Linked DNA regions of Homo sapiens: region 1 is linked to region 2. The links come from fine-mapping of genetic effects on gene expression. A gene starts in region 2. The other region holds a variant in brackets. All regions are shown on one strand. Distances are from middle to middle.

What was found.
Region 1: its variant is fine-mapped to the expression of PDK2 in whole blood (INTERVAL, PIP above 0.99).

The regions. Positions count from the first base shown.
Region 1 is chr17:50,056,826-50,059,325 of GRCh38, reverse strand. All of the region lies in intron 1 of ITGA3 (integrin subunit alpha 3), which reads right to left. Among named protein-coding and RNA genes, the nearest start is that of ITGA3, 2.0 kb to the right of the region's middle. The variant C/A (reference allele first, on the strand shown) is at 1,325.
Region 2 is chr17:50,093,800-50,096,299 of GRCh38, reverse strand. It overlaps PDK2 (pyruvate dehydrogenase kinase 2), which reads right to left and starts at 949. Exons shown (of 11, transcript NM_002611.5): 1 at 747-949. The coding sequence starts at 864. LOC124904024 (a long non-coding RNA gene) reads right to left here. Exons shown (of 2, transcript XR_007065837.1): 2 at 1,647-1,958. RefSeq lists enhancers at 1-33, 34-549, 1,581-1,790 and a silencer at 1,081-1,200.

The DNA of each region.
Region 1 (2,500 bases), 37 kb after region 2:
AATGCCTGGATTCCCAGGAGGGAATGTCAGTGCAGGTGCTGGAGCAGAGAGGGTGTCAGTAACCACCTCCCAGAGAACAGTCCCTGTCCCTCCAAGGAACCCCTCATGCATCTTGCCAAGAAGCCCAGAGCACTTTGGTCCTCTGCCTGCTCCTTACCCCTCATTTCCACAGACTAGGAGACTGGGCCCTGGGTTGGGGCTAGCCCCCTATGTTGTGGACCAGGAACCCCAGTCCAGAGATGAAGGTGATGGGGCAGCAAAGAGGGTCCCACCCCTGGGTTTCTAACCATTTCTGAGGCCTTATGAATGGAGAACAAGAAAGCTGTGCTCTCCCCTCCTCCCACCCCCAGGGCAGTGGACAAATACTACGATTTTGGGTACACTTTCAGGGAGTCCCTGCATCTCTTGAAAACCTTCTACGAACCCCAGTTTAAGAGCCTGTCCAAGACCACGAACCATCCCACTTTTCCAAAGAGACTTTCAGGCTAACAGAATATGAGGCTGCAGCTCGTCTTACTAGTTAGTTCCTCTGAGTTGTGCACTCAGGCAGCTGTTTGCATCTGGCTACACAGCTGGCTGCAGCTAAGCCCAGCTGGCTCTCCCAAATGGCCGAGGGGTCGAATTTAGTGAGATGAAGAGAAGGGCCAAGACACAGAACCACCCTTAGGAAAGACTGAGGATACTCAAGGGAGAGAACTGCCCCTCAGAGGTTCATTAGCTTTAGAACCTTCTGGGCTCTTGGCAGGCTGAATGCCAGCTCCAGCTTCCCAGACAGAAAAGTAGAACCCCTTTGCTCAGCCACCCTGGGCGGGGCCCATGGGTAATGAGGATGCATCCAGGTTCTGGCCTCAGCGCAAGAGCCTTCAGGTGCTCCTTGGAGAAAGGCACATGTGCAGAGGATTTTACGCACTTTATCTCGTTACAGCCCCACTAACATCCCAGCAGAAGGCATGCTGTTCCCCTCCCTCCAACATGTGCGGAAATTCAGGTTCAGGTATTGGTAACAGATCTGAGACAGGACACTGGCCATGGGACCTCCAAGCCTCTTCTCCCTCTACCATATCAAGTTGCTTCTCACAGGCCAGCAGCAGTGGGAAAGAGCACTAGATCCAGGTCCAACCCGTTTTGGGGGAAACCTGGCCCAGGGAGGGGAAATATCTTGCTCAAGGTCACCAGGCAAAAGGGTTGCGGAATCATTATTGACTCTTTCTTTCCAGTCTGATCTCTTTACCTATGTTATCTTATATCATGCAGATTTGGCATTGAAAGTCTGAAAATCTTTTTCTCAGTTAGGGCAGAAAGAGCTGATGTAGAAACTTGTGCT[C/A]ATGGTGGCTCAGGATCTCCAAAAGATAGAGGGTTGGCTAAGGCCAGGTGGCAGCTGCTGGGGCCAGGCTGGGAAGGGTGTGGTAGCCCTAGCCTCTGCAAGAGCAAGATGGAGTTGAGGTTAAGTCCAGGTAGGTAGGCTGGGTCAGGAGGGCAGAACCAAGGCGGGGGCAGAGTTTGGACTTTGGACATTCTAAACTTCCTCAAGCTCTGCAGGCCCCAGCCAGAGCAGGGAGATTTTCCAGTGTACCCTGGATGTGACCACGTCTTCTTGTTCAGTGGGGTCAGAGGCCAGGTGGGGGCAGAGGCTAGGTGGGGGCAGATGCCTGGCAGATCGCCCAGCCCAAAGTGGTGGATGGTACCTGCTTAACCTGTCCTAAACACCGTCCCTCTTTGGACAGCTTCACCTCCCCCAACCGCCAACCTCCGCGCGCTCTGAGGCCACGGCAGAGAGACCTCTGAAGCCTGGACATGCTCCTGGGCATGAGGGCGTCTGGTGGAGTGAGGGGGACCCAGGAGGCTGGGTGCAACCTCCTCCTCCTTCCTCCACTGTGCATAGCTCTTCCCCTCCTCCTTGCAGCTGTTGGGGAAGGAGAACAGAAGAAAGAGAAAAACACTGTTTCCCTCTTCAAACCAAAACAAACACACTCAGGGTTGAAGATCCAACACGAATCTGTGGAATGCAGGGAAGATGTCTGCGGGGAGAGTGCCACTGCTTGCGGGTGGGCAGGAGGAGACCCAGCCAGAGTTGGGACAAGTCCTCCTCTCTCTTTCACCGCCCCTATCCTCAAGGCGTCAGAGGGAGCGTATGGACAGCTCCAAACGCCCAGACTCACCCATCGCCTCACCCTCCATCCGCCAAGCCAGCGGTTGAGAAGGCCATCCAGTCTGGCTCTGCAGAGGGTGTGGCTGGCGTGGCCGCAGACTACCAGCGAGGTGCTTAAATGTATATGCTCATTTTTCCCCCAAGCGTACGGGAAGGGGGGAGTCCGCTGGGTGTTTATCTTGCAGTTTACCCCAGCTCCCAGCCCTGGAGAGAACAGGCTAGTGCTGGGTACTCGGTTCACAGAATGGGAGAGGACTCAGCCACCGGGACCCCACTTCCGCTCTCATGAGAGATCTAAAGGGCGGAGGGGTGGCGTCCAGACAGGTTCTGGCCCCGTCAGCACTTGCCAAT
Region 2 (2,500 bases):
GGGCGATCCTGACCTAGCAGCCCTGGGGCAGCCAAGGGAGGTATAGGCGGCTTGACTCCACATCACGGTGCCTGGGGCCCCTGCCCAGCTGGGGAGAGGCTGCCAGGCCGGAACAGATTTGATCTTCAAGTGTCCTTGCCCACTGGGGCAGCTAGGGTCCAGCTCCTTCTGTGGGTGGATGTCTACCAGTCAGGGCACTGTCTCCCAATGGCATCTTCTGAAAGAGCCCCCTTCCCCAACTGCCCCTGGCTTAATCTCACCCTCTGCCCAGGGGTGTCTGACCCTTCATGCCCAGTCCAGGTCTCTCTACAGATGGCTGCACCTCTAAACCCTGCCTCCTCACTCCCACCAGCAGACCCCCGGTTTCCTCTGGTGGGAGGAGGGGCCCCTACTCCTCCAGTCATGAGGACAACTCCCATTAACCCTTTCGCGTCTGGATACCACCCTACTCCCTTCCTGCAGTAACATCACAGCTTCACTGCCCCTTACTCTTCAAGACCCTTCATGAGGCCCACGAAGAAACCTCGGGACCGTCCTTGTAAATGCCCCCCATTCCCATCAGCAGCCCCGTCGAGAGGCCCCGGCCGGTTCCTGCTTCCCCATTAACTCTTTCCTGCCTGTACCTTTCCAAACAACCCTTCTCTGTCACTCGGGGCCTTTCTTCTCCTCCGTCCCCCTAGCCCCCGGCTGCCCCTCCCAGCGCCCCGCCGGCCTCCGCTGCCAGCCGCCTCCCGCCCACTCCGTACCGAAGTCCAGAAACTGCTTCATGGACAGCGGGGACGGGGAGAACTTGCTGAAGTGCTCTATGTACTTGGGCGCCCCTGCCAGGGACGCATTCTTCAGCAGCGCCCACACCCAGCGCATGGCTGCGGCGGCCGCGACTTTGGTTGTGGTCCCCGCGCGGGCAGCGCTCGCGCACCTTTCGGCCCAGCGACGCGGTTCGGCCGCCTCCTCCCTACCCTTGCCCTGGCGGGCATTCCAACGCCCAGCCAATCGGCTCGTCATGGCGCCTCGACGTCGCCAATGGCCACTCACAAACAACTCCGGGCGAACCAATAGCCTTCCGCCCCGGCACGTGGCTTCCCCCGGGCCCGCCCCCTTAACCCACGCTTTGCCGGGGCGGCCTGTTGTTTTGGGGAGGCCGCGCCGAGTTCCCACCTCCCCTGTGTTCACTCCTCCCTTTCCTCCGCGGGGCGAAGCCCGGGTTAACCCCTTCCTTCCCAGAGCCCCGCCAGCCCTTTCGCTTCCTCTTCCACGCCTGCCTTTCCCTTGCTACCCCCTCGCATCTCCTTCACCTGCAGGCTCCTTTTAACCCTTCCTTTCCAGAGTTGTCTAGGTAGCTTTCAACCAATCCCTTTTCTCCAACTCAAAGGTACCTGTTTCACCTGTCATGATCGTTACCTATCCTCCCTTAACGGGTCTTGGGGATTCCCAGTCCGGATGACAGTGACCCAGACTGCGAATATTTGCAAAATTCGGAACCAGGGTGCAAGCCTATACGAATCCGTCCTGTATATATGCAGCCCACCCGCTTCCACAAAGATCCAAGCGGCTCAGGAAAAGGCGGAGTTTGCTTTTCCAACTGAAAAACATCCAGAGTAAAAACCATCACTACTAGTGGCGGTGGAGGCAGCAGCTATCGTCCATGCCAGTTAACACTTTCATTTTATTATACAGCTCATCTGACCGAACATAAAGCCTTGGACATCTAGCGCGACCACCTGAGAAAGCCACCTCCTTCGCACCGGGCTTCCTTAGAGCAAGATCCCAGGAGGTGAAGTGTCTCTGGGAGGCCCGGAGCCCGTCCTTCATCAGCGGCCCAGCTTCTCTTGGAGAAAATGTGACGCGCCCTCTTGTGGCCGAATGTGGTATCTCCCATCGTGGGTTTAGGGCCCGACCCGCCACTTTGATGCTTTCTTTGCTCGGTGACATTAGCCTAATACGTGTTAGGCTTTATGCTGGGAACAGGGAACACAGACAGGATCAAGAAATGGCCTTTTTCCTCGATGATTTCATTTCTAAGTTTCAGAGATAGCTACATAAGTAAATAATTAGCTATAACTGAATGTGATTGTAATACAGACCTCACAGAGCAAAGCTTCACATATGGAAGGGCCTCTTAGCTGGATGAATAATAAGCTATATGCCAGGCACTGTTTACAGGCATTATCTCATTTAATTCTCTATTTTATTATTCTTAGCCTCATTTCATAGATAAGAAAACCGAGACTCAGGGATCATTCTCAACTGCAAATCTGACCTTATTACTTCCTTGCTCACAGCCTTTCAATGGGCTATTTTTTTTTTTTTTTTTTTTTTTTTTGAGATTGAGTCTCCCTCTGTCGTCCAAGCTGGAGTGCAGTGGCACAACCTTGGCTCACTGCAAACTTCTCCTCCCAGGTTCAAGCGATTCTCCTGTCTCAGCTTTCCAAGTAGCTGGGATAACAGGCATGTACTACCATGCCTGGCTAATTTTTGTAATTTTAGTAGAGACAGGGTT